Regions from separate parts of the Homo sapiens genome. Here regions 1, 3, 4, 5 and 6 are each reported to be linked to region 2. Evidence: microRNA targets listed by miRTarBase, many of them from high-throughput screens and not tested one by one. Region 2 holds a microRNA gene; each other region holds the end of a gene's coding sequence.

The links. Region 2 holds the annotated microRNA hsa-miR-6889-3p (UCUGUGCCCCUACUUCCCAG, at 3,353-3,372, opposite strand). A microRNA usually pairs through its seed, bases 2 to 8, with sites in the 3' UTR of a target mRNA and lowers its output. Matches are read on the target gene's strand: a 7mer-m8 pairs with bases 2 to 8, a 7mer-A1 pairs with bases 2 to 7 and ends in A, and an 8mer does both.
Region 1: miRTarBase lists IMPA1 as a target of hsa-miR-6889-3p. The part of its 3' UTR that is shown has no 7-base or 8-base seed match.
Region 3: the mRNA of EHHADH is a reported target of hsa-miR-6889-3p. Seed matches in the 3' UTR shown: 7mer-m8 at 1,862-1,868.
Region 4: miRTarBase lists ZNF852 as a target of hsa-miR-6889-3p. Seed matches in the 3' UTR shown: 7mer-m8 at 1,744-1,750, 7mer-m8 at 3,275-3,281 and 7mer-A1 at 4,403-4,409.
Region 5: miRTarBase lists SKIL as a target of hsa-miR-6889-3p. Seed matches in the 3' UTR shown: 7mer-A1 at 2,904-2,910.
Region 6: miRTarBase lists PVRIG as a target of hsa-miR-6889-3p. Seed matches in the 3' UTR shown: 7mer-m8 at 1,224-1,230.

Annotation. Positions count from the first base shown.
Region 1 is chr8:81,655,285-81,660,653 of GRCh38, reverse strand. IMPA1 (inositol monophosphatase 1) reads left to right here. Exons shown (of 9, transcript NM_005536.4): 8 at 1-138; 9 at 1,188-3,740. The coding sequence ends at 1,303. Among named protein-coding and RNA genes, the nearest start is that of IMPA1, 28 kb to the left of the region's middle.
Region 2 is chr22:41,249,640-41,255,008 of GRCh38, forward strand. It overlaps MIR6889 (microRNA 6889), which reads right to left and starts at 3,411; the gene lies at 3,353-3,411. RANGAP1 (Ran GTPase activating protein 1) reads right to left here. Exons shown (of 16, transcript NM_002883.4): 11 at 4,669-4,855; 12 at 3,233-3,352; 13 at 1,368-1,470; 14 at 90-178.
Region 3 is chr3:185,187,745-185,193,113 of GRCh38, reverse strand. EHHADH (enoyl-CoA hydratase and 3-hydroxyacyl CoA dehydrogenase) reads left to right here. Exons shown (of 7, transcript NM_001966.4): 7 at 1-2,490. The coding sequence ends at 888. EHHADH-AS1 (EHHADH antisense RNA 1) reads right to left here. Exons shown (of 7, transcript NR_038990.1): 7 at 1,159-1,427. Among named protein-coding and RNA genes, the nearest start is that of EHHADH-AS1, 28 kb to the right of the region's middle.
Region 4 is chr3:44,494,371-44,499,739 of GRCh38, reverse strand. ZNF852 (zinc finger protein 852) reads left to right here. Exons shown (of 4, transcript NM_001423469.1): 4 at 1-5,369. The coding sequence ends at 595. Among named protein-coding and RNA genes, the nearest start is that of ZNF852, 14 kb to the left of the region's middle.
Region 5 is chr3:170,391,130-170,396,498 of GRCh38, reverse strand. It overlaps SKIL (SKI like proto-oncogene), which reads right to left. Exons shown (of 7, transcript NM_005414.5): 6 at 5,239-5,369; 7 at 1-4,240. The coding sequence ends at 4,082. Among named protein-coding and RNA genes, the nearest start is that of CLDN11, 25 kb to the left of the region's middle.
Region 6 is chr7:100,220,177-100,225,545 of GRCh38, forward strand. PVRIG (PVR related immunoglobulin domain containing) reads left to right here. Exons shown (of 5, transcript NM_001397246.1): 2 at 1-288; 3 at 371-497; 4 at 584-644; 5 at 752-1,314. The coding sequence ends at 1,075. It also overlaps the pseudogene CASTOR3P. Among named protein-coding and RNA genes, the nearest start is that of PVRIG, 2.9 kb to the left of the region's middle. RefSeq lists a silencer at 843-892 and enhancers at 1,313-1,412, 1,433-1,532.

The DNA.
Region 1 (5,369 bases), not on the chromosome of region 2:
GAACAGCAGCTGTTAATATGTGCCTTGTGGCAACTGGCGGAGCAGATGCATATTATGAAATGGGAATTCACTGCTGGGATGTTGCAGGAGCTGGCATTATTGTTACTGAAGCTGGTGGCGTGCTAATGGATGTTACAGGTAAAATTATGGAGAGTGAAGCAGATCTCCACACATCTGTTGGACTTTTGTCCATATGTAGAATTTAAAAAACTTTTTGATATATGTTATACTGCAGTTTTTGAAGCAGAAACAAGCTATATAATTGTGTGCAAAATCAAAATAAGCTTTAGGAGATAGAGGTAAGGATAAGAGGTAATGGTAATGTGAGACTTACAATGATAAATGGCTAATCCTTTTCTAGTGTGAGTTTCAGGTACTCCTGAAAGGCTGTAGAAAAAGCCTAGACCAAGTTTGTCCAACCTGCAGTCCATGGGCCACATGTGGCTCAGGATGGCTTTGAATGTGGCCCAACACAACTTTGTAAACTTTCTTAAAACATAATGAGTTTTTTGCGATTAAAAAAATTTTTTTTAGCTCATCAGCCGTCATTAGTGCTAGTGTATTTTATGTGTGGCCCAAGACAATTCTTATTCTTCCAGTGTGGCCCAGGGAAGCCAAAATATTCGACACCCTTGGCCTAGACAGTCACCGAGTCTGAGGCTTATACCCAGAGCTCTTTGAATGGTGACAATGGTGATAGTTGATGATGGACTTCCTCCACCATCACTTTCTGTGTTGAGACTAGAGAAGTTAAATAATTGCTTTCAACTGATGGTGAAAATTTTAAACCGAAGGGTGAATCTGTGCTGAAAGAATTCACCAGTGATCTGGGAGAAAGGCAACAAAGAAATAAGGAAATGGGAAGGACAGTGGTATGAAAATGCATTGGATTCACATTTTCTGTCCATAGATTCTTAAACAATAAAGAGGTAATAAGAATGCACAAAAATAGAGAAAATATGACATTTTCTAACTGGTATGACTTCATTATTTACTCAAAAATTATGCTTAGAAACAGTTATATATTGTCTAAGCTTATACATTGTAGAAATGTAACAGTAGATTTTTGTTTAAGAAAACTGAAAGTATTAAAATGTTATGTGACCATAGTACATATTGCTATACTTGTTTTATATGAATTATTTTTGTACCAGATAAAATTATTTTTCATACTTGTTTGCTTTTAGGTGGACCATTTGATTTGATGTCACGAAGAGTAATTGCTGCAAATAATAGAATATTAGCAGAAAGGATAGCTAAAGAAATTCAGGTTATACCTTTGCAACGAGACGACGAAGATTAATTAAGGCAGCCTCATAGTCAATCCCAGTTGCTTTTCCCCAGATTTGGTGACTCATCAATGGATATGTGTTTTGGATGTATGATATGCTTGGTTTAAATTCTCTTTGTCCAGGTCAAAAATTTGGAACTTGTTTCTTATTTTACTATGTCTAGGTTTGCAAGAATTGACATAATGTTTGTTTCACTGATTTAAAAAATTTTGCATGTAAGAATGTACTTTAGGAAACATACCCAGGAAGTACAGTTGATAAATATAACATCAACTGAAATAGTCAATTAGCAATTTTGTGTTTCTAAATATCTATGGTCCCCTGAAATTTTGACTTAGTATATAGGTGCAGAGACACCCACTTAGAAAGTTAACTGTTTGGAAAAACATTTCTCTTTAGTTTCAAAAACCATATATAATTAAATTTGTAAGGATATACTGAGTACCCTAGGCCAACTTTTTTTTCTTTGCAGAGAACCTTTTTTGTTTTATTCTTCAGTGTTCATATAGCACCTGGCCCATTACATATCTAGGCAACTAAAAACAAACATTGTAAGAATGAATATTTTTAATGTAGTAATTCCTAGTTACAATAGATACATAAAGTAATGAACTCAGCATTCTGTACTTTTGCTTCAGGTTTGAAGTAAAAATTATCTAGTTAAATTTTTTTTATTTCACGTTACCATGCCATTTCACATTACCATACCATCAGATAGCATGGCTTATTGTGGGCATTTCTGCAGTGAATACATTTTCCAAAACAGTTAAATTGTCTGTTTGGATTTGCTTTAAAGTCTTGTGTAAGAGAGAAGAAACTATTTCTATAATAAAAAGCACTCTCATCAGATATCTGACATAATTAGATACAATATAACATTTTACTAAGTTCAGTATTCATGTTTTAAAGGTGTTTATACTGATTTGATTGTGCTGGCAAATATACTGTATTGTTAATATTGAACTGTTTATTTTTCTCTTAGTCTTCTTATTTAATTAACTTCATTGCCGCTGGATTCTGTTCAGCCTTTAAAAATATTTCTTAGTGGTCATTGCTCTGCAGAACTCAAAAAGAAAATTGTACTTGTTCATAGACATTTTTAAAGGGTTAATTTATTGTTCAGCCTTATCCCTTGGCACGTAAACAGACTACTAGACTTATTGTAGGTTCGTTTGAGCTTTGTGTTGTAAAATTAAAAATGCTTCTGTAAAGTTTTCAAGGTAGGGAGTGATTTTATTATTGTGTATATCTAATATATTAAGTATGTGTGATACTAAGGTTTGACTGCTATAATTATTTGTACTGTTGATCACATGTACTTAAAACATCTGATACTGTATTCTAAGACAGGTTGTTTTTGCAATTAAATTTATTTTAATAAGACGATCATGAATAAAACTTTAAATTGATATTTTTATTATTATTACCATTATCATTATTATTATTTTTAGATTCAGGGTCTCGCTCTGTTGCCCAGGGTCTGTCTCTGACTGTGCTGTGGTGCAGTCATAGCTCACTGTATCCTTAAATTCCTGGGCTCAAGTGATCCTCCTCTTTCAGTCTCCTGAGTAGCTGGGACTATAAGTTCATGCCACCATGCCCTACTAATGTTTTAATTTTATTTTTGTAAAGATGGGATCTTCCTATGTTTTCCAGGCCCCTTGGCCTCCCAAAGTGCTGGGATTACAGATGTGAGCCACCGAGCCAGGCCATGATATTTACATTATTAAAGTTAATAGTTCAAACTACTTTTAGAGGCTTTGTTTTGTTTTTGTTTTTTGAAGACAGTGTCTTGCTCTTCTGCTCAAACAGTAATGCAGTGGCATGATCACCATTCATTGCAGTCTCAACCTTCTGGGCTCAAGCAGTCCTCCCACCTCAGCCTCCCTAGTAACTGGAACCACAGGCACATGCCACCATGCCTGGCTAATTTTTTAGTTTTTGTAGAGACAGAATCTTCCTATGTTGCTTAGGCTGGTCTCATTGGGCTCAAGTGATCCTCCTGCCTCAGCCTTCTAAAGTGCTGGGATTACAGATGTGAGCCATTGCACCCAACATACTTTTAGAGGTTTTTGTGTTGAGTTACAAATATTTGAAACTTGCAAATGTAATTTAATATATGTTCTTATTTTTTGCCTGTAATCTTTCCAACTTTTCTAAAAACCTATATTTTTTTCTACAATAGCTTTTCCATCTGTTTATTCTAAATGCAGTTGCATATTTTGTGTCTGAAATTTCTTTAGATGCTGAAAAAGGATGATCGACAAGTGAATTATCTAATAATATTTGAAAATATTTCTTTGAGTAACAGGACTTCTTAGACTTAACATGTATATTTTGTATCAGGGTATATTATCTTTCTGCATGTGGATACATACACAGATACATACATAAATATACATAAATATATGTACTTGAACACATAAAATATATGTACTTGCCTTTTAACGAAATTGTGTTCATTCTATCCTATACTTACTTGTGAAGCATTATTTGGCTTTGTTATGAATTACCAGCCATTCTTAGAATTGGTTTACAATGCTAAGTCAGAAGTTTTCCTGGGATATGTATTATTCTGACTAATTTGTCCTTAATTTTAAGATCTAGTGTAGAGCCTAAAATACCATGTTTGAAGAAAACAAAAATAATTATTTTAAACTGTTTCCTTTTACCTCAGTTCCCTATGTTTACCCTGCCTCATTTAGAAAAAATACGTACTTTTTATTACTGTCTATTTAGTCACACACATAGTTTAAAATTTCAAATACTGCTACACAGTTCAGAATGAAAACCAGCATTTTCCTGTTCCATTCTATCCCACCCTAGTTTATCTCCTCAAACTCTTTTAGCAGTTGTTGCTGGTATTTACCTCCATCTTTGAAAAGGATAGATATGTTCTACTAAATCTTTATTTATTGGCTTCACTCCATCTCAGTTAACTTGGTATTATGGAAGCAGACCCCATGAGTTGCTTTTCTGTCCTCTTTTCCATCCTTCTACAATAGTGATATATAAAATTTTTTGCTAAAATTATGTCCATTGTTTAACTTACGACTTTTATTAATTGGTTAGCTAGCAAGTAGTGTGTTATGATTACAGTTTCTTTCCTGTGCAACTTTTTATACTTTCTGAAATTAACAGATTTCTCCCAGGATTTTCCATTGGTTCACCATACTTAAGTATTCTGTTGTGTGAGAACTATTTTCTTTTCTCTCTGGAGATAGCCCTTTTGGGGCCCTTTTCCTTTTCTTCTGTTTGAACTGGTTTCTGGCTGGGTATGCTGCACTGTCCTTCAGGGCTTGCCTCTGCTTCTATGCTGAATTTTCCATATCCTGGGTCTTTCTTAGCTCATTTTGATGAGCCCATCTTCCAAGTGCTTCCTGTGAAAGGTACTTGGGAGGTAAAATTTTGTGATCTCTGGTATCAGCAGATGTCTATTCCTGCTTGCTGCATTCATAGTTTGCCTAGGTCTAGAACTCTAGGTTGCAGCAGTGTTTCCCTCGGAATTTTTAAAGCATTGCTTCACTCTCAGAGCTTTCAGCATTGCTGATGAGACACTGTTGTGACGGTCACTCCATCAGTGTGTACTCTTTTCTGTTGAAGATTTTAGGATTTTCTCTTATCTAGAGTTTTCTGATTTCCCTGTGATGATCATTGACTTACGTCTTTTTCATTCTTTGTGTTAATTTTTCGTGTCTTTTTGTGCTGGAAATTCCTCCAGTCTTAAGGGTTTTGTTTCTGTGGTAACTTCCCCCCTTCCTTAGTCTCTTTCTTCTCTTTCTAGAATTTCTGTTATTCAGTTGTTGAATCCTCTATATTTATCAACTTATTTCCTCTGTTTAACATCTTTTTGCAGCTGGGCACAGTGGCTCACGCCTGTAATCCCAGCACTTTGGGAGGCCGAGGCAGGTGGATCACCTGAGGTCAGGAGTTCAAGACCAGCCTGGCTAACATGGCGAAACCTCGTCTCTACTAAAAATACAAAAATTAGCTGGGCGTGGTGGCGGGCGCCTGTAATCCCAGCTACTCGGGAGGCTGAGGCAGGAGAATCGCTTGAACTTGGGAGGTGGAGGTTGT
Region 2 (5,369 bases):
GTGAGGGAGGTTGGCGGGCATGGCTGGGGCAGCTTCTGTGCAGACCCCACCCACCTCCCTCCCGGGCCTGCTGTTCCTTCCGGCCTCACCTTGAGCAGACCCATGTGCACGAGCAGCCTGGTGAGGAAGGTGTTGGAGTTGAAGGACGAGGAGTTGAAAGCCTTCTGCATCAGGGCATCTGTAGGGCAGAAGCAGCAGGGGCAGGCTGCTGGCTATGGCAGAGGGCTGGGCCAAGGCACCCAGGGTTCCCCCAACACCGCGCAGACACAGGCTCGCCTGCCTCCTCGCCCTGACGAAGAGGCGAACACGAGAGGGACGGCAGAGACACAGGAACCAGAGGGAGTGGCAGTTGGCATCAGGGGATGGGCTCAGTCCATCTGCCAGCTGTGACACTCTGGCCCTTGCCCATCCTGGCCTCAGGTATAAAATGGGCATGGGGATGACACCCACTGTGCCCACCTCACACCGTGGGAATGGAGATTTCCTGAGGCAGGCTACCACTGGGGAGGATTCAGGTTATTTTGGCAGGGTGAGGGGATGTGCAGGGACTGTGCTAGGCTTCCTGGGAAACAGAACTAGGGCAACTTGTTCCCAAAAATGCCCACAGGCGGGCCCTCAGGGAGCAGGCTTGTGTCTGGCCCCCACCTCCTTCCGAGCCTCATTTCCCACTGAGCCGCCCTCCCCGCTTCGACGCCACGCCGGGAAGAGGCACCACATGTCCTTCCACCCCTTTCTATCTTTTCCAGGAACCGTCCCCCTCGCCTCAGGGCCCTTCCTCCCCTCTGCCTAACCGGAACTGGCTCAGGTTTCGTTAGATGTGGAGGCTCAGTCAAGCACATGGAAACAGGGTGGAAGGTGACAGGTGCTGGAATGGAGGAAACAGACAGGGTGGGGAGAGGGTTGTGATAGGGCTGGAGGGATATGGGCTGGTGCTCCAAGGAAGCCCCCATAATGTTATGGGGAAAGGTGTCCTCTGTGCAAGGAACCTCCAGGTAGAGTGGACGTGAGCACAGAAGCTCCAAGGTGTGGACAAGGGCTTGGCTCTCACCATCCCTCCTCCCGATAGACCTGCGTCCATTGGGCTTGCAGATGTGACTATCTGGACTTCCTAGAGCGGGCTATGGGTTCTAACTGTACATGGCTGTGTGGATTTGGGAAAGGCCTCAGTTTCTCAGTGGTGAAAAACAGGGAGAAGAGCAGCCAGCTGGCTCCACGGCAGGACCCTGACGGAGGAAAAACTCAGGTGGCCAAAGAGCAGTTCCCATGAGAGCGCTGGGGCTGACGAGTTACGGCAACCACGAAGGATACCTGGGGCCCACGAGCATCAAGGGACAGAGGGCACCCAGGTCTCACCCAGCCCACATTACCTACTGCATCCTGCACTGCCATCCTCACAGTAGCTTCGTCCTTGAACACAGATGACACCTTTAGGAAGGCAGAGACCACCTTCTCGGGGTCAGACGTGTCAGTCTGAGGACAAAAGAGACAATGGTTGGCCTGTGGCACGTGGTGGAGAGGTACCTGGGCTCTGACGCTAGCTAGGAGAGGCCTGGGCAGTACAAAGGCCCCTGGCGGGCAAGAACAGGTCCTGCCTTACCCCATGCTGTCCCTTCAGAGTCTGGCTTGGATTTGGCCTGCAGCAAGCACATATGCAGCATAGAGAGGGAATGAATGAGTGAATGAACAAGGATGAAAAATCATCCCAGCCGGGTGTGGCGGCTCATGCCTGTAACCCCAGCACTTTGGGAGGCTGAGGTGGGAGGATGGCTTGAGGCGAAAAGTCTGAGACCAGCCTAGGCAACATAGCAAGACCCCATGTCAACAAAAAGGAAAAAAATTAGCCAAGGTTGGTGGTGTGTGCCTATAGTCTCAGCTACTTGGGAGGCTGAGGCAGGAGGACTGCTTGAGCCCAGGAGGTCGAGGTTGCACTGAGCCATGATTGCACCACTGCACTCCAGCCGGAGTCACAAAGCAAAACATTGTCTCAGAAAAAAAAAAAAAAAAATCATTTCAGGGATCCAGTGGTCCCCATCTTGTAATTGAACTTGAAGAAATAATCTAGCATGTAGACAATACTCACATGCAGAAACGTTTACCTCAACCTCACAACAGGGAAAAGTGGAAAAAACGTCAGAAACAGTGCCTGGCTTTTAAGTGCTACATCCACACATTGCAATAAAAATCCTGAGAAGAGTTTTATGGGCACAAGAAAGTGATGAATGGTGCTACACCAAAGTGATAGGCCACAGAAAGGCTTACAACATCTGATTTATCATGTTAAAAGAAACAAAGAATACAGGCAAAACCTAACAAAGCAATTGGCCGAAATGTTAAGCCAACTCTGAGAGTGGGCCCATTTTATTTCTCTGTAACCTCCGAGCCTCCGCTTTCTTATCTACAAAATAAGGGCTGGCCGGGCACGGTGGCTCATGCCTGTAACCCTAGCACTTTGGGAGGCCGAGGTGGGTGGATCATGAGGTCAGGAGTTTGAGACCAGCCTGGCCAACGTGGTGAAACCTCGTCTCTACTAAAAAATACAAAAATTAGCTGGGCGCGGGAGGCTGAGGCAGGAGAATTGCTTGAACCCAGGAGGCAGAGTCTGCAGTGAGCCGAGATCGTGCCACTGCACTCCAGCCTGGGCGACAGAGTGAGACTCCATCTCAAAAAAATAAATAAATAAATAAATAATAAAATAAAGTAAGGGCAGCAGAGTCTACATTTCATGTTGCCAAGAGGGTTAAATAAAATCATGCCCAAATGCAGTGCCTGGCAGAAAATGGATGCCCCGAAGATCATCTATGAATGAATGAATGAGCCAACCAACAAGTGAGGCTGGAGTGAGGGCACCCATCCTGCAATAGGCACGTCACTTCCAAAGGAGCCCTGGGCAACAGAGTTGTTCTCGAAGCAGCTGGGCTGACGGAACACGCAGAGAGAAGCCAAGGAGGGGGTGGGCACATGCAAGGCTCTTAAGGAAATTCCCTAACCCCAGTCAGCATGGGAACTGGCGGGCTGTACTTTCTGTAGGCTGAGTGGGGAGGGAACATTTGCAACCCCTGGAGGCTTATAAATACCCTGGACATTTGCGCGTGTTGTAACAGTGGCAGGCCAAGCCTCCCTGCCCCCAGCTGACAGCGTCGCACCCCCAGGTCTCTGAGCTGTTCGTCCCTTTTCTCTAACAGCTCCAGAAGCCACAGCACGTACAGCGTGGGGGTCGAGGGGTGGTTATTACCTGCTGGGCTATCAGCACGGAGCTCTTGGGCCCTAGGCGCAGCAGCTTCTCTGGAGAGGGAAAAGCCAGGAAGGTGGAGACGTCTGCAGGAGGTGGGGAGGACAGCACGGGAGCTGGCTCCTGGGAAGTAGGGGCACAGAGGCTCTGGAGAATTCCGGACCCCAGACTCCCCGACACAGCTGTGCCCATCCCCACACCCAGCACATCCACCCTTCACTCCAGCCCATCTAGGCTCAAAGTCTAGAATTCTTCCTCCCACTCAGCTGCATTTCCCATCTATCAATATCACCCAGAGATGCTGGCCCTGGATGGCTCTTGGTCCAGGAGCCTTTGGGGTGAGGGGGAAGCTACCTCCCTGGGACTCAAAAAACCTGCTACGGCCAAGTGGATCCTCGTCATGACATGCAGTGCCCCAGAAATGACTACGGAGGCACATGGGGGCTAAAGTGGGTCCCCGTAGAACTACAGTCCAGCCTGGGTAAGCCCTGCTAGCACCAGAGGTGCCCAGAGGAAAAACTGAATTGAGGCGAACCTAGCCATTTGTTTAATTGATTCCATAAACCAGAGAAGCAGCCCAATTCAGCGTAAGCATGGGGAGTCCTTGTCCAGAGCCAAGTTCTCCAGGAGCTTTACTTAGGAACCTGACAGGGAATGCAAATGAATGAACTGGAGGTGTGGCAGCCCTGATGCAGCCCCGGGCCAGACAAGGGACACCAAGTGCCCAAGCCAGGTCATGGCCCAGCCACCATCCCAGGAATGGGGGAGTGGTTCCTAAGGGTCACCAAGACAATCCTCTGGTGGGTGGGGAAAAAAAAAATCAGAATTTCTATTTATGCTTATTTGTTTATTCTTTCAGAAACCCTTATGCATATCTTATAATATACATAATGCAGCAGCACTGCTACCTGTAAATAGACATTTATATTGGGGTAAATAGAAATATAGGTAACTATGGCTGGGCCCGGTGGCTCAATGCCTGTAATCCCAGCACTTTGGGAGGTCGAGGAGGGTGGATCACCTGAGGTCAGAAGTTCAAGACCAGCCTGGCCAATATGGCGAAACCCCGGCTCTACTAAAGATACAAAAATTAGCCAGGCGTGGTGGCAAGCATCTGTAATCCCAGCTGTTTGGGAGGCTGAGGCATAAGAATCACTTGAACCCGGGAGGCAGAGGTTGCAGTGAGCCGAGATCACACCACTGCACTCCAGCCTGGGTGACAAGAGTGAGACTCCATCTCAAAAAAAAAAAAAAGAAATATAGGTAACTATCATTACACTGGGACCATTTTCCTTTTTTTACTCAATATCATGCAATCAAAAAAAAATGTTTGTGGCTACTGTGCTTAAGGAGACACCCCCTACCCCATTGTGAAAGTGCCTCGGGATTTCACGTTCTCAGGACCAGGGCTCTGATTGTGGCAGATGATAGAAACTCACCCCAGTGTTAGGGTCCAGAATCTTCCGTGAGGGCGTGGCTGACTTCTCTCCCTGCCCTCGCTGCTGAGGCTCTTCTTCCTCCTCCTCCTCCTCTTCTTCCTCCTCTTCCTCATCTTCCTCCTCCTCTTCTTCTGCTTCCTCTTCTTCCTCTTCTCCTTCCTCCTCCTCCTCCTCGTCCTCGTCATCACTGCAGAAAGAGCTGGCTGAAGCAGATCCTCTCTACCCAGCAGCCCAGGTTGGCTCTAAGGCCTGGCTCCATGAGCCCAGAGACCTCACCTCAGCCAGGAGGGAGAGAGCCTGGTGGGGTGGGAGCACCTGCTCCCAGGGCAGGGGCAGGTGGATCACCAGGGAAATCCATGCTGTGGACACAAAAAAATAAGATCGGCCCGGCGCGGTGGCTCATGCCTGTAATCCCAGCACTTTGGGAGGCCGAGGTGGGTGGATCATGAGGTCAGGAGATCGAGACCATCCTGGCTAACGTGGTGAAACCCCGTCTCTACTAAAAATACAAAAAATTAGCCGGGTGTGGTGGCGGGCGCCTGTGGTCCCAGCTACTCAGGAGGCTGAGGCAGGAGAATGGCGTGAACCCTGGAGGCGGAGCTGGCAGTGAGCCGAAATTGTGCCACTGCACTCTAGCCTGGGCAACAGAGCGAGACTCCATCCCCCACAAAAAAACAAAAAAAAAAAACAAAAAAAAATCA
Region 3 (5,369 bases), not on the chromosome of region 2:
ATTGGCACCCACTTCTTTTCGCCAGCTCATGTCATGAAGTTGTTAGAGGTTATTCCCAGCCAATACTCTTCCCCCACTACCATTGCCACTGTTATGAACTTATCAAAAAAGATTAAAAAGATTGGAGTCGTTGTAGGCAACTGTTTTGGATTTGTGGGGAATCGAATGTTGAATCCTTACTACAATCAGGCATATTTCTTGTTAGAAGAAGGCAGCAAACCAGAGGAGGTAGATCAGGTGCTGGAAGAGTTTGGTTTTAAAATGGGACCTTTTAGAGTGTCTGATCTTGCTGGGTTGGATGTGGGCTGGAAATCTAGAAAGGGGCAAGGTCTTACTGGACCTACATTGCTTCCAGGAACTCCTGCCCGAAAAAGGGGTAATAGGAGGTACTGCCCAATTCCTGATGTGCTCTGTGAATTAGGACGATTTGGCCAGAAGACAGGTAAGGGTTGGTATCAATATGACAAGCCATTGGGTAGGATTCACAAACCTGATCCCTGGCTTTCCAAATTCCTATCACGGTATAGAAAAACCCATCACATTGAACCACGTACCATTAGCCAGGATGAGATCCTTGAACGCTGCTTATATTCACTTATCAATGAAGCATTCCGTATCTTGGGAGAAGGGATAGCTGCTAGCCCAGAGCACATTGATGTTGTCTATTTACATGGATATGGATGGCCAAGGCACAAGGGCGGGCCCATGTTCTATGCTTCCACAGTTGGGTTGCCCACAGTTCTAGAGAAATTGCAGAAATATTACAGGCAGAACCCTGATATTCCCCAACTGGAGCCAAGTGACTATCTAAAAAAACTGGCTTCTCAGGGAAACCCTCCCCTGAAAGAATGGCAAAGCTTGGCAGGCTCCCCTAGCAGTAAATTGTGATTCAGTCTTCCAGATTATGCCTCACATGCTAGCATCAGGTAATGCTGACTGAATTTCAGTGAAATTAAATCAAAAATCCAAAGTAAGATTGTTCTGAAATACAAAGCAAAATAAATAATCATTAGAATCTTCTGTGTAACGACTCTAATGGTCAAATCTTTAGGAATGTGCTTCCTATGCCTCTGAATCTGTCCTTATCAGATAAATTCAATGCATGAACTTGTGTGAATATAATACCATAATAGCTAATGAAAGAGGCTCAGGCATAAGTTGAGATTCTCAAATGCTTTTATCATTGGATAAATGTGTCATCAATTAATAAATGATAAATGCAGCTAAGTCATACATTCATTTTGACTCCTTTCAATGTCACACACATAGTATTGATCAGAAATCTTATGAATCATACATACACTCAACAAACATTAAAGTTGTAGGAAAAAGACAGTTGGAAATTGGTAAGGGAACTGAGTACTTCAAACCAGCACAGGGAACTTAGGTTAGTGTGGCAAGCCTTTCCTCTTCTGGTCTTTCCTCTTCTGTTTATGGAGAAATAATAGAAAGTAGTAAGTCGTTAACTTAGTGTAAGAAGGGTCTTAGAGAACATCTAACCTTCTAGGATTTCCCAATTCTGTGATAGAGTAATGACACCAGTTTTCCTGTCATGACAAGCCTCTGTGATGTTACATATGGAAATGGTTGAATCTTGAAAAATCTAAAATTGTTGCAAAACATATTTTGTATGATTTTGTTGTAAGAGTTCTTCTCTTTTTACTTTTTGCCTTGTGTAGTTAAAAATTAAGGGGCTGGTCAATACAAAAACTTGTACACAAATATTTATAGCAGAATTATTCATAATGGCCAAAAGCTGAATACAACCCAAATGTCTATGAACTAATGAATAGATAAACCAAATCTGGTATATCCATACAATGGACTATATTATTCAGCCATAAAAAGAAATAAAGGGCCAGGCACAGTGGCTCACACCTGTAATCCCAGCACTTTGGGAGGCTGAGGCAGGAGGATTGTTTGAGGCCAGAAATTTGAGACCAGCCTGGGCAACATAGCAAAACCCTGTCTCTACAAAAAATACTTTCCGTACATTAGTGGTTGCCTAAGGCTAGAATTGGGGGTGATGAATGGGGAGTACAGGATTCATCTAATGGGTACAGGATTTCTTTATGGTTCATGAAAATGGTCTAAACTTATTGTGGTAATGGTCACATAACAATATATTAAAAACCATTGAGTTGTATATTTTAAGTGGGTGAATTATATGGTATGTGAATTATATCTCAATAAAGTTGTTAGTAAATAAATGGGGCTGAAGATGTTATCCTTCATTGTGGTGTAAATGAACTTTCACAATATTTTCACCTGTGAACCCAAATAAAATGATTAAAGTTCTGATGGAAAAATCTTGAATGGAGTATAAGTTTTCCGTTGTTAAAAAGCAAACAAAAAACCAACAAAAAATCCAAGTGTGCCTTGAATTGTACAGAGCACAATTATTATGTTTGAAATGTGTACTACTTAATTTTATATAATTTGGTTTGTGAAATTAAAGACATCAATAAAAATGATTCCTGAAAGTAGTAATTTTGTCTCCAAAGTGACTTGCTTTCAAATCAGTGTTAAAAAAAACCCACTAACTTTTTCTTCAAACCTGGAATTAATTTTGAGTTCTTACAACTTATTTTCACCCTACAGTGGCCTCTAGATTAAGGGGGTTTTTTTTGTTTTTTTGTTTTTGTTTTTGTTTTTTTCTGACTGGAGTCTTGCTCTGTCGCCCAGGCTGGAGTGCAGTGGCGCTATCTCAGCACGCTGAAAGCTCTGCCTCCCAGGTTCACACCATTCTCCTGCCTCAGCCTCCTGAGTAGCTGGGACTACAGGTGCCCGCCACCACGCCTGCCTAATTTTTTGTATGTTTCAGTAGAGACAGGGTTTCACCATGTTAGCCAGGATGATCTCAATCTCCTGACGTCATGATCCACCTGCCTCGGCCTCCCAAAGTGCTGGGATTACAGGCGTGAGCCACCACGCTTGGCCTAGATTGAGATTTTGAAACTAGAGGGTCTATGAATAGGTTTTATGAGTCAATAACCCCTGAAATGTTATGATAAAGTTTGTGTACATGTATCTGAGTACATTTCTTGGAAAAGGTACCATATCTCACATCATATTCTAAAAAGTATCATGACCCGACCAGGCGCAGTGACTCACGCCTGTAATCCCAGCACTTTGGGAGGCCAAGGCAGGTGGATCATGAGGTCAGGAGATCGAGACCATCCTGGCTAAAACGGTGAAGCCCCACCTCTACTAAAAATACACAAAATTAGCCGGGTGTGGTAGAAGCACCTGTAGTCCCAGCTACTTAGGAGGCTGAGGCAGGAGAATCACTTGAACCTGGGAGGCAGAGGTTGCAGTGAGCCGAGATCATGCCACTGTACTCCAGCCTGGGCAACAGAGTGAGACTCTGTCTCAAAAAAAAAAAAAAAAAAAAAAAAGTATCATGACCCAGTAAAGGTTAAGGACCAATAGAAAATGGCAAGAGCAGCCTGGCAAGGTGGCTCATGCCTGTAATCCCAGCACTTTGGGAGGCCAAGGTAGGCAGATCACTTGGGGTCAGGAGTTTGAGACCAGCCTGGCCAACATGGTGAAACCCCGTCCCTACTAAAAATACAAAAATTAGCCAGGCGTGGGGCGCATGCCTGTTAGTCCCAGCTTCTCGGGAGGCTGACGAAGGAGAATCCCTTAAACCCGGGAGGCAGAGGTTGCAGTGAGCCAAGATTGTGCCACTACATTCCAGCCTGGGTGACAGAGAAAGACTCCATCTCAAGAAAAAAAATGAGAAAGAAAACAGGAAGAAGAAAATATGAGTTCATTCCTTCTTATTTTACATCAAATGAAGCCAAACTAATTCGAATTTGCTGGGTCCCACATATAATAGTAGTTAATATGATGAAATTTTCAGGATATCCTCTCCTGTCCTTGAACATATACTTGCTTAAATGGCTGATTTTGTTAATAATTTTAAAACTTAAAAAAAAAACTTTGGATTTTGTTTTAAAAAATATGTTCTAATGATCATTGACTCTGATGGGAATTATATATTGGAAACACCCTTGAAGCTGTAAGACTCCCAGCTTGAAAGATGCTCTTAATGATAGTACTTAAATCAGTAAAGCCACCATGCAGCTGCAGTTGCTCTCTATTTACTTTCAGCAGGAACAGGTGTGCATGAGAGCAATTAAAGTGAGGAATCCTAAATTCCCCTGATTAATGATGTTACAGAATTCTTTATGCAAATCACACTCTACTGCACTGTAGGAACCTAAAATTTCAAGGTCTTAGATTTGTCTTTAAAACAGATACCTAGAAATCAGAAATATTGCAGCCTCACTAGATTATCTGAACCTTTTTGGTAGCCATTGATAAGATTAAATCAAGTTCTCTGGACTATGTTTAAAAGCAGCTTTCTGCAAGAACAGAATAGTTCTTGACTATTCTTGGGACTGTCAGTGCCATCTGCTTATCTTACCAGCTTATACGTATTTTGAGATTAACAGACAAGTTACACTGCTTCCAGGCAGGACAGCAGCATTCACAACTCCAGCGGACACCATTCATACTGTGTACCAAGGGGTTGTCATCCACATAGAAAAGATATGAATGACATCCCCAGGAATTGTATAATGCCTAGTTTTGTTTCCAGGACACTCTGTGTGGCAGTTTCAAGCCAAAAACTCTTCTGGTTATTGCTGTATCTTTCTAAATAATAGTTGACAAAAGTGGCTGAGAAAACCTCTGTTTAGACTGGATCACCAATGGGACCAAATTTGGGACAAAATGGGACAAAATGATTGCATTTTGTTTGTTCTTTTTAATATTTTTTTCCTAGCACCCTGAGAAAGAGGAATATGAGAGAGATGAACAGAACTTTAAACTCTTGTCCAAAGAATACCAGGGCATTTAATTTATTTTTTATTTTTTATAGATACTATGTTGCCCAGGCTAATCTCAAATTTCTGGGCTCAAGTGATCCTCCTGTCTCAGCCTCCCAAAGTGCTCAGATTACAGGCATGAGCTACTGCACCTGGTCCCCCTGCACATTTCAATTGAAATATTTATTTCTTCTTTTGCACCCAAACTGAAAGTAGCCTGGCAGAATGAGTGCCTGAAAGCATCTCATAAGATGACCTGAGCAGAGCTAATGCAGTCGCTCATGCGCACATTTTCACTGTACTTAGGCTATTCCACATTCTCTAAGACGACACACAAACAGTTGCTAATTCTAGCCATAGTGTGATATCCCTAGCATGAGATTAGGGCAATTCCACATTCTCTAAGACGACACACAAACAGTTGCTAATTCTAGCCATAGTGTGATATCCCTAGCATGAGCTTAGGGCAAAACCTTCTCCAACCAGATCCTAAATGCACATGGATTTCCAAAGCTGGCCAAGGCCTAGAGTGTT
Region 4 (5,369 bases), not on the chromosome of region 2:
GAGCCTCCACACTGGGGAAAAGCCATACAAATGTAGTGAATGTGGGAAAGCCTTCAATCAGATCTCTCAACTTGTTGAACATGAGCGAATTCATACTGGAGAAAAACCATTTAAGTGTAGTGAGTGTGGTAAGGCATTCGGTCTGAGTAAATGTCTTATTCGGCACCAGAGGCTTCACACAAGTGAAAAGCCCTATAAATGCAATGAGTGTGGAAAATCCTTCAATCAAAACTCATACCTCATTATACACCAGAGAATTCACACTGGTGAGAAACCCTATGAATGTAATGAGTGTGGGAAGGTCTTCAGTTATAATTCTAGTCTTATGGTACATCAGAGAACCCATACTGGGGAAAAACCCTATAAATGCAATAGTTGTGGGAAAGCCTTTAGTGACAGCTCACAGCTTACTGTGCACCAGAGAGTCCACACTGGAGAGAAAAACCTTATGAATGTATTGAGTGTGGGAAAGCCTTTAGTCAGCGTTCCACTTTTAATCACCACCAGCGAACTCATGCTGGAGAGAAGCCCTCAGGTCTGGCTCGGTCATCTTCTTAAGGCATGGTTTTCTGAGACAGACAGCAAAGACCTTTGAGTTAAGCTGTCTTTATAAGAAGGATGTTCATCATGGTCTCCTTGGAGACCACTAATCACAGTGGAGACCATACCTACTTGCTTTTCCTTGGGTCACTAAGGTGGGAGAGTAGGTGCAACTTAGTCTGATCCTTACTTAGTAGGAAATTGGGGATTACATCTGTCATTAACTTGTAGGTTCCCTTCTTTCTCTTAAAAAACTATTTAAAACTCTATCTTGTTAGTATGCATTCCATAATCAGATTCTGCATTTCTCAAGAACAGCAGTTATATTACCTTTATTCTATTGCAGTTCCTCCACTGAACCATTTACGTGAAGTCACTTTTTAAGTCATTCTGCAAGATTATTCTTCCCTGCTCCTTGGCTATCTCCTTCCACAGCTACTTTAAAAATTTGTACTGTAAGCTACATCCTCTCATCATTTTTGTGTTTTCTAGCTAGAAAACTTTTTCTTCCTGTTTGCTAATCACTTCCTTCACAATGTTCAAGATTTATGCCATTTCTGAAAGACTTTCTTCTTCAAATAGTTTTTCGTTTCTTTTATACCTCTATTGATTTGGCCTTAATGCTTTAAATTAGCTGGTGCTACGATGTGTAACTGTTAAATGTTTTTGTAAATTGTTCTTAACTTACAAGGTGATATGTGTATCACATATGTACAAAGTATACACATATATAGTTGTGTATGTGTATACTTTCTTTTTTTTTTTTTTTTTTTTTGAGACAGAGTCTCAGTCTCCCTCTTGTTGCCCAGGCTAGAGTGCAATGGTGCAATCTTGGCTCACCACAACCTCTGCTTCTCGGGTTCAAGCGATTCTCCTGCCTCAGCCTCCCGAGTAGCTGGGATTACAGGCATGTGCCACCATGCCTGGCTAATTTTTTTTTTTGTATTTTTAGTAGAGATGGGGTTTCTCTATGTTGGTCAGGCTGGTCTTGAACTCCCAATCTCAGGTGATCCGCCCGCCTCAGCCTCCCAAAGTGCTGGGATTACAGGTGTGAGCCACTGCACCCAGCCTCAAATGTGTATACTTTCATACCAGCTTGTAAGCTTCTGAGATCAGGTATGGTATCTATTTCTTTATATGCATAATAGTTTGAATATGCTAGTTCTTAAGTTTTAAAATTCAAATTGAGCCATCATAAACGTGGGCACAGGCTCCCGTCTCCCTCCCATTACACTGGACTAGAAGCTTCTAAAGAAGGAAGTGGCATCGTAATATATCACATATAAAGGCTCACTGATATCTTCTACTTGTAGCCCTGGAAGTCTTACTACTGGTACTTCAGCCTTGAAGAGCTAATGGATTTGTGTGTGAATGAGTGTCTGTTTATCTAGGTATTGGGTTGGGCAGTCATATCCTACTGATAACATGCTTTGAGCTGCACACTTACTCCATTTCTGAACTATTTGACTGCATCCTGCTTCCTAAATAAAAGTTATAGTCGGCCAGGCTCAGTGGCTCACGCCTGTAATCCCAGCACTTTGGGAGGCCGAGGTGGGCAGATCACTTGATGTCAGGAGTTCGAGACCAGCCTGGCCAACATGGTGAAACCCCATCTCTACTAAAATACAAAAATTAGCCGAGTATGGTGGTGTGCACCTGTAATCCCAGCTACTTGGGAGGCTGAGGCAGGAGAATTGCTTGCACCTGGGCAGAGGTTGTAATGAGCTGAGATTGTGCCACTGCACCCCAGCCTGGGTGACAGAGTGAGACTACATCTCAAAAACAACAAACAAAAAAAACCTTACAGTCAAAATTTACTGCAAGAAGACTTGACTTTCATGGCTGTAATATAGATGATTGAAAATTTCAGCTAGCAGCATTCCTGGATGATTGGAATTCAGAGTGATGAGGTTTTTGGTAAAATAGTAGTATCAAACTAATCTGTTTTCCTTATCAGCTAGTCCTTTCTCACTACAACTGCTGTCTTAATTTCAAGATGAGAACTGTGCCTTAATTATCTTCCAGACCACCTTTCCTTCTGCAGTCATATGTCAGTCCATGAGCTTGAACCACCTTTCCTTCCACCCTTGCAATAATGGCCCAGTGCCGGTGGACCTTTTACTCTAATGTTCACCCTGTTCTCTTTCCATCCCCAGACTTTTTTTTTTTTTTTTTGAGACGGAGTCTTGCTCTGTCGCCCAGGCTGGAGTGCAGTGGTACGATCTCAGCTCACTGCAAGCTCTGCCTCCCAGGTTCATGCCATTCTCCTGCCTCAGCCTCCCGAGTAGCTGGGAGTACAGGCGCCCGCCACCAGGCCCGGCTAATTTTTTTTGTATTTTTAGTAGAGATGGGGTTTCACCGTGTTAGCCAGGATGGTCTCGATCTCCTGACCTCGTGATCTGCCTGCCTCGGCCTCCCAAAGTGCTGGGATTACAGGCATGAGCCACCACGCCTGGCCTCCATCCCCCAGATTTCTTAACAGGCTGACAGGATCCGCAGTATGACAAAGGTGGAGGAGGAGGCTAGAGGGGCAATGTCAGTCATGTAACCTGGAGGGGTGATTTTGTGCACTGTGGTGTATGTTTCAGACAATGCAGGAGAAAGGAAAGAGAGTTGAGGATCAAGAAAATTAGAATTAAATGTGATTGTTGGGGAGATGTCTCAGACAAAGTTAGAAAGGATTACTGGGGGCCTAAAGTTTTTCAGGGCCTTTTGAAATTTCTAAACTTGTCTGGGCACAGTGGCTCATGCCTGTAATCCCAGCACTTTGGGAGGCTGAGGCGGTCAGATCACCTGAGTCCAGGAGTTTGAGACCAGCCTGGCCAACATTGTAAAACCCCGTTTCTACTAAAAATACAAAAATTAGCTGGGTGTGGTGGTGCACGCCTGTAATCCCAGCTATTCAGGAGTCTGAGGCAAGAGAATCACTTGAACCTGGAGGGCAGAGATTGCAGTGAGCCAAGATCACACCACTGTACTGCAGCCTGGGCAACAGAGCGAGACTCTGTCTCAATAACAACAACAAAACAACAAACCGGAGCTCATGACACGGCTGGAATTTTACCATTTGTGAATATGTATTTTAAATGTTTTCAGCTTGTTTTTTTGTATTTTTTTCCATTTTCTTTTAAAAGATATGCAGATAGGACTTTTTCCTCTTTAACTGTCTTATTTTGGGAGCCCCCAGATTTCAGGGAAGAGCCCCACACTATATGAGCACATGAGTTGGACATTTCTGGTTCCCCGCCCTGAGTTGGACATTGCCAGTCATGTCTGCAGAAGAACCATCCTGCCTGTTGGAAGCTGCAGTTTTACCTTCTGGTTCTTGCCTGCTCATCCCCTACCATACTAAGCCTCCAGAGTGTGGGAATGTGCACCATTTCCTAACTATATTAACTCACTGCCACCAGTCTGGTGTGGGTGCTCAGTACAAGTGAATCCTGAAAAAGCCTCAGGCTCTTGGATGGAGGAAAACTGGCTGCATTTGAAAGCCATACTTCAATTTCTATTGGTCACTGCTAGTATAAACTTTAATTATTGATTTAAACAAATTTTATCTGGATCCAATTATGTTGATAAATTATTTTTAGGTTTAATAATTTGTTAGATTCATTTCCTAGCTTTTCTAGGTTTAGAATAAATAATGATTTATTTGTCTTTTGATGTCACTTATGTTGTGCATTAGCAAGAACTTCAGAAAACATGGAACAGTAGATGTCTTTCTCTTAACGCTTGGGGGAATGTTTTTAGTATTCTGCAGTTTCATATCGTGTTCATTGTTGGATTCTGATGTTCTGTTAGATTTAGGAAGTTTCCTTCTAATCTTATTTCTAGAAGAAGCAGTGTAGTTTAGTGGTTAAGAGCACAGATTTTGTTCCCAGTGCCCTAGGTTCAAATCCTGAGTCCACCACTTTGTTAGGTGTGTGATCCTGGGCAAATCACTTACCTTCCTTGTATCTTATTCCTCCATCTATAAAATGGAGCTACCTCATAGGGTTGTGAAGAATACATTATTGTAACAATACTGGGCACACAGTGCACAGTTTCCCAATTATTATTATACTTACAGTTTTGTTTTCTGTTTTTTTTTTTGACAAGGTCTCCCTCTGTTGCTCAGGCTGGAGTGTAGTGATGTGACCATAGGTCACCTCAGCCTTGAACTCCTGGGCTCAAGAGATGCTCCTGCCTCAACCTCCCCTATAGTTAGGAATACAGGCATGTGCCACCATGCCCGACTAAGTTTTTATTTTTATTTTTTGTAAACATGGGGTTTCACTATTTTGCTCAGGCTGGTCTTGCGGTCCTGGCCTCAAGCGATCATCCTGCCTCAGCTTCTCTAAGTGCTGGGAATACAGGTGTGAGCCACCATGCCTGGCCTATACTTAAAAAGTTTTTATTAGGATTGGTTGCTATATTATATCAAGTTTAAAAACTCCATCATTGTAATTTTATGAGTTATGGTTTTTTCTTTTTGTAATTCATTTTCTTGACAAGTTTGCAAATATTTGCAATTTCCTTGTACTTTTCAAGTAAAATCTATTTGTTCATAGTGAATTTTTATTAAGTACAGAAGTAGATTCAATTTGGTAATGCTTTGCTAGCTTTGCAAAAGAATTTGGAAAAAATTTTGTTTATCTTATTGCTATGGAGAGTTTGTATAACATGGGAATTGTTCCTTGAAGGCTTGCTAAAAGTAACTGGGCCTGGTTCTTTGGGTGAGGGGATTGGGAGGGATATATCTTTAGCAACTGTTTTAGTCAGTTTGAGCTATTATAACAAAATACCATAGAGGATGGCTTAAACAACAGACATTTATTTCTCACAGTTCT
Region 5 (5,369 bases), not on the chromosome of region 2:
TTGTTTCAACAGTTGCAGAACAGATATTTCATTTACTGCCTTCACAGATTAGAAATTCAAAAGTAATTTAAGACTACTATGTTGGCTTAAAATTATCAGGATAAACAAATACTTCTAACAGGATAGTAAAAACAAGTAAAATTTTATTTCTCATAAACTAATTCCTCAAAAGATGTCCTACATTTAGCAACTGTTTTCTAGGACATGTTTACTAGAACTACTTTAAGTATGCTGTGCTTTCTTTTCAAGTGAGGTATCTATATTGAGGAAAAAAATCTTATAAATTCCTTTTACATTAAACTAATTTAATACACTATTTTGTTTTCTGGGCTGAATTTTTAAATTTTTTTCTTACATTTGATCACTTTCTAATTCAAAAATTGTAGCACTACATAGGACATTTAATTCTATTACTAAATAGGCTCCAAATTACATTATACAGTTTAGAAACCATTTCAATGAATGGATTTACAAAAAAAAAAAAAAAACTGTCCTTTTAAATGAAATGCAATATAAAATACTAATACACTTTTCTTCCAAAAGTGGAAATGCTTAAGTACCCTATACTAGAAAAAAAAAATTAGGCTGTTTATTCAATTCCACAATGTATAATACAGCAGTTTTATGTCCCTTATTGCTGACAGCTTCGATAAAAACTATTAACAAGTAGTTCCAAGCACAGAAACAGATGTACAGTATGAGCACGATTTTTCTTTATATTAATTTTTAATGTCCTATCATGTGGATTAAATGCATAAAGGGCAAATAAAAATGAGGAATCTTCCCTAAGTAATCAAAACATATGCCTTATTGAGAAGAAAATTTTAGAAGCTGATTAAAATCCTTCAGCACTAGCTTTGCAATTAATTCTGGAGAAATACCTTGACACATCTTATAGTATTTGAGTTTCCTTATAACTTTACCTTCCTTCAAACAGAAGCTACCTATGTGCAAATAAACTGGTTGTTCTGTCAGGACTTCTAAAAGATATGGATAACCGGCAAATATATACTTTATTTCACCTACTTTAATAGCTGCTTTACAATTCGCTATGTACAAATGATTTTATATCTTAACTGGTAATATATTAAATATGTTATAAAATTAGTTCAAGAAGCATAAAACACCCTAACTCTCATGAACACAGAAATTCAAGCAAAAGAATATGCTTAAACAAAAACTAAAGCACACAGCAAACGTAAATTGTTGGTCAAATCTTTTCATAGTGTTATAAGTTACATTTGTGAAATTTAGGGTAGTTGAAGAGCTTCCTCAATAACAGCAAGAGGTTTTACATTTATTACCTTTATAGAGTAGGTACACTTTTCTCATAAAGTTTAGCCTACAGAAACTATCGCCACCCAAATTAAACATCACCCAAGCTAATATTCTTTCTTCCTTCTAAAGATGAGCTAGCAAAACTTTTTATAGGTTGTCCCTTTAATGCAGCTTTTTAGAATAAACATTTTTACATTTTTTCTTAAAAGAATTATTTTTTGAAGTCTGAGGAAAAATCCGCTTGCCTAGTGAATTTGGCACACAAAGAGTAACAACAAATCAAACTTTAAGCTAGCAACCAACACACAAAATAAGCATGCAAAGAATAGAATAAGTTTTATATGGATAAGGTATTTTAGCCAACTCCACTTATAAGGTATTACAAAATCTCTATATTGTTTTGAAGCTATGTGTTGCAGTTTAAAGTTACTTTTAACAATAATACGTATATTTACAATTGACTTAAAAAACTATTTTCAAGGAAGTTAGAAACCTATGGCACACCAACGCATCTTCTGGAAAATGAAGACGATACAATGTCATGTGGCAAGTTTTCAATATATGAAGGACTAGAAAAAATATTTCTTTACTCAATTCTGAATTACAAGTTCATAATAATTTAATGGTGTTTAAGCACTGCTTAAAATTTTCCAATAACATATTTCAAGGATTAAGCAATTTATTTTAGAAGTTTTGGGTTAAACAAATTATCATTTTCTAGGTAACATAAAGCAGAAAGGTTCCAAGTGAATTAGAAATATAAATGAAATTATAGGTGTTTGAGTTTGTCTTCCAAAAAGCTGAGCTGTGACACAAATAATTCAAAATTAAAATAAAACTATATCATAAATATCTGATTTTTCCTTCTCCAGATCTAAATAGATTGTATTGGGAGAATATGTCATTTTAAATATTTGTTTCTAAAAATTAGCCGGGAGTGGTGGTGGGTGCCTGTAGTCCCAGCTACTCGGGAGGCTGAGGCAGGAGAATGGCTTGAACCCAGGAGGCAGAGCTTGCAGTGAGCCGAGATTGCACCACTGAACTCCAGCCTGGGAGACAGCGAGACTCTGTCTCAAAAAAAAAAAAAAAAAAAAAAAAAAAAAAATTTGTTTCTACATGTCATTTTAATATTTGTTCCTCCTTGAGAAGATTCCAAGACTCAACGAATTAAATTAGTCTTAATATAGCAAAATTTAAATGGAAAATAGAAAACACACATTTAGGTTATACTCAATTTAGTAAATAAATTACATTTGGGGAAGTACAAAATTCTTTTTGGATATGTACTATTAAGCAAAATATGAAAATAACTGGTTAAATGACAACCTAGTGATTCTTTCTACACCATTAGATTATCTACCTTCTATGCTGGAAATAGAATATAACCTTAACCCTAGCTAATTTATTTTAAAATAAATATAGCTCTCTGAAGTAATTTCATACATAGTATCTTATAAGAGAACATGAAAAACATTTATTATCCCATAAAATCCATGGGGTAATAATGTCAATTAATGATAGTTTCAGGAAACTCCCTTTAAAAACAGATCTAAGAATTTTACCTAATATATTTTGAGCCAAGAATTAACAAATATGAAATTTGCCATTAGAGAATGACAGACTTTTCTGTGCAAAAAAAAAGTGCAGAAGATGTTGTCCCTCCTGAAACTATGGAATTCCTTTATCTTCTAAAACTTATCTAAAAATCTTTTAGTAGCAGGTAACTAAACTGTCCTATATGCACCTATCATGTACTATCAGTTGACTGTAAATTCCTGATTTTGATATTAAGTAGTAAATGAAAATGGTCCATTCGTGCAAATTTTGGTAAGACAACATTTAAACATACAGAAGTCCAAAATAACCTTCAAGGTGTTTAACATTTTACAACTTAAAGGAAAACAAGTCCATTATATAAATTTTAGTAAGACTCATAACTACATGTAAAAACTGTACAGGAGGATTATGGATTGTATAGAAACTGATACACAACAGTGGTATCAGTTTTTCTCAAGAACGTTAATATTTTCACACCACTATTAACAACACAAACAAAAGTTCAGAAATTATCACATTTTATTTTTGAAAAGTTGCTGCTTAAAAAAAAATCTAACTATAACCACATTTAAACTGAAAAACAAATTACAACTGCTGCTTCTGTTTAGCAGCAGCACATAACAACACATTCTTCTTCCCCACTGTGCTCATGGGGTATGCTATAACCTCAGTAAAATTCCTCCTAGGGTACACATTAAAAAGAAGAGAACTGGTGGAAATTCATTCCACAATCTGAACAAAGTAAAAGTAAATTTGGTGTATGTTAATGAGTACACCATATCAACTTAGAAAAATTGTGTTAATGAGAAAAGGGGAGATTCAACTCCTTGAGTAGCTCTATATACTTAAAATATAAAGCCACCATTGTATCTAAAATTGAGTCTGAAATATGGATAACAAAATTGACCACAGCTATTTTCCAACACATATTGCAGCTTTTAAAAAGTACACAATTGTTAAGTTTGCATTAGAAATATAAGCAGATTACCTACTAGTTGAAACCATATAGTATTGTTACTAAGCTGATTTTTTTAAAAAAGTACAAAGAAACATACATTTTCATTCATTTGGAAAATGTAAAAATTTAAGTACTAATATATAATCTCTTCACTTTCTCTGATCTACAAATGGATAGAATGCCTAGTTATCGTCATGCAGATAAATTCTTCAGAATTCAATTACCAAAGCAAGCAACAAACAAAAAAAACCTTGTCAGTAATACACAGATGAATCTCTTTAACAGTTTCTATTCTTTAGCAGTCTTTGATGATTTCAGAATTTGCAGCTTTAGCTCTTTTATCATCATCTCTAACTTCTGTCTTGCTTCCCGTTCCTGTCTGAGTTCATCTTGGAGTTCTTGCCTATCGGCCTCAGCATGGTCCAATCTCTGCCTCAGTTCTGCCAACTATGTGATTTAAAAGGCGCTATCAATTTTAATTGTTTTGTTTTTCCATTTAATCCTCATATCATAGAAAATATCTATTTTCAAATTACTTTTTACAAAACGAACTATTTCATGTATACTAAATCCATTAAGCATCTAATACTATTAATCTGACATCTGACAGGACACTAAATTTAAGAAAAAGCAAAGGAACAAGAGGAAGGAACACATCCAGCATGTTCATGTTCATTATGCCCTATACTTTACTATACCGCTCATCACAGCCTGCTCATGTTAGTTATTTGTTCATGTTCCTTAAATTGTGAGATTCTATTAACAAAAGAGAATTGCTTATTTTTGCTCCAGTGCTTTTGAACATAACAGGCAACAGTTCCTGTTTGTTAATTTGTAGATTTGAAAGCTCATATACTACATTAAAATAATATAACATATAATATTCAGAGGGCTAGAGATTAGCAATTTAGGTAACTAAACTGCAGTAACCCGATAAAAATTTAAACTAATAAAAGCAACAAACATCAAAATAATCATCTTGGACAATACAGCATAAAGCTATGTTTAACAGAATTATCTATTTTGAAATCTAGCTTAGTAAACTGAGCTTGACAAAAAGTAATTCCTTTATTAGAGAAGTAACGGTGGCCGGGTGCAGTGGCTCATGCTTGTAATCCCAGCATTTTGGGAGGCTGAGGTGGGCAGATCATGAGGTCAGGAGTTCAAGACCAGACTGACCAACATGGTGAAACCCCGTCTCTACTAAAAAATACAAAATTTAGCTGGGCATAGTGTCGCACGCCTGTAATCCCAGCTACAATCAGGAGGCTGAGGCAGGAAAATTGCTTGAACCCGGGAGGCAGAGGTTGTGGGGAGCTGAGATTGTGCCACTGCACTCCAGCCTGGGCGACAGAGCAGTCTCTGTCTCAAAAAAAAAAAAGAGAGAAGTAACAGTTTCCATTTCCATGCTGAAAGGGCACCATTATACAAACAGTAATTCTTACCTGTCCTGCATATTCAGCCTCTTTGTCTTTTTCTAAATTTGAGTCACAGGTACATTTTTGCTTCATTATCTGCTCCAATTTTTTCTCTAAGTCTTTCTGTTCAACATAAAATTCTTCCATTCTTTGAGCAT
Region 6 (5,369 bases), not on the chromosome of region 2:
GTTGTGGGTTCCTGGGGTCTGGCTCCATCTCCCTGGTGACTGTGAGCTGGGGGGGCCCCAACGGTGCTGGGGGGACCACGCTGGCTGTGTTGCACCCAGAACGTGGCATCCGGCAATGGGCCCCTGCTCGCCAGGCCCGCTGGGAAACCCAGAGCAGCATCTCTCTCATCCTGGAAGGCTCTGGGGCCAGCAGCCCCTGCGCCAACACCACCTTCTGCTGCAAGTTTGCGTCCTTCCCTGAGGGCTCCTGGGAGGCCTGTGGGAGCCTCCCGCCCAGCTCAGACCCAGGTGGGGCCGGGGCGAGGGGTCCAGGAGGGCAGGGAGGGGCTCGGGAACTGGCCACCCATCTGATTCTTGTCTCCGTGCCCAGGGCTCTCTGCCCCGCCGACTCCTGCCCCCATTCTGCGGGCAGACCTGGCCGGGATCTTGGGGGTCTCAGGAGTCCTCCTCTTTGGCTGTGTCTACCTCCTTCATCTGCTGCGCCGACATAAGCACCGGTGAGACCTGGTCCCTGTCCACGTCCCCCTGACACTGGGATGGCCACATGCCCTGCAGAGCTCTGACCATCCTTGCTCTCTCCCAGCCCTGCCCCTAGGCTCCAGCCGTCCCGCACCAGCCCCCAGGCACCGAGAGCACGAGCATGGGTGAGGAGGGGACCTGCTTTGGGGATGAGGTGACAGGGGCAGGGGCAGGGGGGCCAGGGCTGGGCCCAAGCTGTGCAGACTCACTTGACCCTCCTTCCCCCGCGCAGGCACCAAGCCAGGCCTCCCAGGCTGCTCTTCACGTCCCTTATGCCACTATCAACACCAGCTGCCGCCCAGCTACTTTGGACACAGCTCACCCCCATGGGGGGCCGTCCTGGTGGGCGTCACTCCCCACCCACGCTGCACACCGGCCCCAGGGCCCTGCCGCCTGGGCCTCCACACCCATCCCTGCACGTGGCAGCTTTGTCTCTGTTGAGAATGGACTCTACGCTCAGGCAGGGGAGAGGCCTCCTCACACTGGTCCCGGCCTCACTCTTTTCCCTGACCCTCGGGGGCCCAGGGCCATGGAAGGACCCTTAGGAGTTCGATGAGAGAGACCATGAGGCCACTGGGCTTTCCCCCTCCCAGGCCTCCTGGGTGTCACCCCCTTACTTTAATTCTTGGGCCTCCAATAAGTGTCCCATAGGTGTCTGGCCAGGCCCACCTGCTGCGGATGTGGTCTCTGTGTGTGCGTGTGTGGGCACAGGTGTGAGTGTGTGAGTGACAGTTACCCCATTTCAGTCATTTCCTGCTGCAACTAAGTCAGCAACACAGTTTCTCTGATGTCGGCCTCGGCTGTGCTTCTTCTTTGGGGGTGAAGAGAGTGGGGAGGCAGTCTCCACCCCTGGGAGGCAGAAGCCAGGTGAGAACCAGAGTGGGTTGGGGCCTCATTGCAGGGCTGGGGTTGGCCCAGGGAGAGGGCAGTGTCCCAATCTTAGAGATCTGTCCTGGCTTCTCAGAGTGGCAGGGGTGTTGGGGGAGCTTCCTGAGGGACACCTGTGGCTGCCTAGATAGGGCTGGGGGATCCCAGTGGGATGGTCTCTGCTCCAATCCCACCATGTTCTAGGACAACAGCAAGGGTTCCTGGGGCTTTGGCCTGAGAGAAGTCCCTGTGGTTTGACCTGGCTTCCCTCTGCTGGGCTCCCTGCTGTGGCCTGGGCTGGGGTCCTGATGCCCTCCTTCCACAGCTGGCGTTAGGCAGGGTGTGGAGAGTAGGGGGACTCACCTGAAATCTTCCCTCAATCACTTCCCCCGCCTCCTCTCGGGGAAGGCAGAGGCCTTCACAGACATGGGGGACTCCCCACAAAATGTTCCATCCAGAGCCAACCTTTCTGCTTGGTAGAGCTGTGTCTCCCCCTCAGCCTAGTTCCAGGGCGGGTCCGTGTCTCCCACCCCAAACTAGTTCCAGGGTGGGTCCCTGTCTCCCACCTCAGACCAGCTTTGGGGCTGGTCCGTGTCTCCCCCTTCAGACTATCTCTGGGGCAGGTCCATGTCTCCCACCTCAGACTAGCTCCAGGGCAGGTCTGTGTCTCCCCATTTAAACTAGCTCTGGGGCGGGTCCGTGTCTCCCCCATCAGACTAGCTCCGGGGCGGGTCTGTGTCTCCCACCTCAGACTAGCTCCAGGGCAGGTCCATGTCTCCCACCTCAGACTAGTTCTGGGGCGGGTCTTTGTCTCCCCGCTCAGACTAGCTCTGGAACGGGTCCTTGCCTTCCCACTCAGATTAGTTCCGGGGTGGGTCCATGTCTCCCCGCTCAGACTAGCTCCAGGGAAGGTCTGTGTCTCTTCCCTCAGATGAGCTCCTGGCAAAGCCTCCCCCGTCAGACTAAGACTCCTAGGCAGAGCCGTGCCTCCCCCTGGTCCAGCCGGCGACCCCTCATGCCCAAGGCAGCCCTACCCATTGAAGTAGGACATGACATCCATGAGGAGTGTGGCAACAGCAGGCAGCGTGTCGGGGTCCAGGCTGGTGACACAGAACCTGTTGCTCGGGCTGGACAGTGGGTGGATGACCGGCATCTGGACTGTAAGAGCACAAAGATGTCAGGCACTGAGGCTGGGACTGAAAGCAGCAGCTCTGGTGAGTGCAGGGCCTGGGAAGAGGGCTGGGGAGGGCTCAGCCGCAGGCCCTGAGAGACTCATTCACTGCTGCTTCTCCAGCCTCTACCACCAATTACCACCGTCCTGATTCTCCATCTCACTCTCAGGCCCCTGGGCCTTTGCACATGCTGTGCTGGCTGCCTGGGATGCCCTTCCCAACTGGCACCACCTGGCCCCGTTCCTACCTGTGTTCCAGGCTTCAGCACCACAGTCCCTGCCCAGGGAAACCCACCCTGACACCTGGGATTGCAGCAGGAGTGGCCTCTGGCCATTGCTGTATGCATGCACGTCCACCACCCTTGCTAGACATGGCAGCAGGGCCTGCCCAGGACCTTTCCATCACATTTTTTTTTTTTTGAGATGGAGTTTTGTTCTTGTTGCCCAGACTGGAGTGCAATGGCACAATCTCGGCTCACCGCAACCTCCGCCTCCTGGGTTCAAGTGATTCTCCTGCCTCAGCCTCCTCAGTAGCTGGAATTACAAATATGCACCACCACACCCAGCTAATTTTGTATTTTTAGTAGAGACCAGGTTTCTCCATGTTGGTCAGGCTTGTCTCAAACTCCTGACCTCAGGTGAATTGCCTGCCTCGGCCTCCCAAAGTGCTGGGTTTACAAGCATGAGCCACCACACCTTGCCCTTTGCATCCCGTTCTGCCTGGCACTCCATTCATGCTCAGTGGGCAGAAGCCCGTGCTGAGAGCAAGGCTGGTCTACGGCTTGGCCTGGTAACTTCGTGAGGTTTCCCCGCACAAACCCCCGCCCCCAGCTCACCCAGCTTGGGCTTCACGAAGCCACTGGTGATGCCGAGGTTCTCGGCTGCTACAGTCTAGCCACTGACCACAGGATGGTGAACTCTGATGACAACGTGTGGGTGACAAAGGGCAGGTCCCGCTTGAGCACCTAGGGGCAAGAAGTTGAGGCTGTGTGTGCCTGGTGGCCCTGGGGCACCAACCTCTCACCCTGAGACTCTGCCCCCACCCTGGAATAGCGTGGAAGGGCAAGGCTGCAAGGGGTGGGAGATGGGAGTGAGTGTGTCAGAGGCGGGCCCAAGTGTGCAAGGCGTGTCTGTGATGGTCAGCTCACCAGGATGAAGTCTGTCTGATACGTGGACAGCATGAACACGGATATGTTCTGGTCAGCCAGTGGGGCGATGACTGACTTGGCGATCTTGGTCATGCCAATAGGCTGGGAGCTGGAGAAGCTGCCACCGCCGGACACCACGTTCAGGGCCAGCCAGGTGGCATCCGCCACACTCAGGTGCTCCGAGGAGGGCAGCTCTGGAGGGAGACACAGAAGGCAGCCCTGTGACTGCTGAGGTTCCAGCTGTCCCAAGGGCAGGGCAAGGTAGGCCAGAGAGGTGGAGAGTGAGGCTCTGGGGCCAGCTCTACCCTGTGCCTTGCCTCACTTTCCAACAGGATTTTTTTTTTTTTTTTTTTTTTGAGACAGTCTTGCTCTGTCACCAGGCTGGAGTGCCTGGAGTGGTGCGATCTCGGCTCACTGCAACCTCTGACTTCCTGGTTCAAGTGATTCTCCTGCCTCGGCCTCCCAAGTAGCTGGGATTACAGGCACGTGCCACCATGCCTGGCTAATTTTTGTATTTTTAATAGAGACGGGGTTTCACCATGTTGGCCAGGATGGTCTCAATCTCTTGACCTCGTGATCCGCCTGCGTCAGCCTCCCAAAGTGCTGGGATTAGAGGCGTGAGCCACCGCACCTGGCTGGATGGGATTGTTTTTTGAGAGAGTCTTGCTCTGTCGCCCAGGCTGGAGTGCAGTGGTGCAATCTCGGCTCATTGCAACCTCCACCTCCTGGGTTCAAGTGATTCTTGAGTAGTGGAGATTACAGGTATGCACCATCACACCCAGCTAATTTTTGTATTTTTAGTAGAGATGGCATTTTCCCATGTTGGTCTGGCTGGTCTCGAACTCCTGATCTCAAGGGGTCCTCCTGCCTTGGCCTCCCAAAGCGCTAGGATTACAGGCGTGAGCCACTGCGCTCGGCCTTCAACAGAATGGGATTTGAATCAAAGGCTGCTTCCTGGGAGGACTGGGCAGGGAAGGCCCTCAGATGACACAGGACATCCCCAGCAGCTTAGCAGAGTAGGAGCCATGTGGGCAAGTGGTTGATCTGCGCCAAGCCTCAGTTTCCTCAGCCGTAAAACGATGGCATCAGTAGTGGGTAATGCCCTTATCTTTAGTTCTTACAACCCTTTTGTGGGTCTGATGCTGTCATCACGCCCATTGTCTCGCGTGCAACTGGCTTTCAAACTGGGTTCCTGGAGACCTCCCAGGAAGGCTCTGGGTGGAGGGGAGGCCAGGAAAAGGCTGGGTGGGGCTTTGGGGTTTCTCTTCCCCCTTCAGCCAGCCCTGCACATTGGGCTTCTCTGGAAGAACAGGCAACTCCAGGAGGGCCCCTGAAGAGGCTGCATCATGGGGGGCAGTGACTGTCACCCATGTCCCTCCTGAGAGCCTGGAAGTCCCAGGGGCTGGCAATGGCTTTGGCAGGCGGGGGAGTCCACAGCAGCAGCAACTGCTAAGCCTCCTTACCTAGCTCATGAAAACCCAGAATCCAAACGCTGGAGCCATCCCTTCCACCCTGTCCTACAGACAGAGTCCCTGAGTAGCCCTGAACGTGGGACACAGGCACACACTATGTGTGACCACACCCAGCCGCAGACTCGAGCCCAGGCTGCATTTGGGGCTCTTCATACATCACCAGGCACCTGCATAAACCCACCTAGTGCCAGG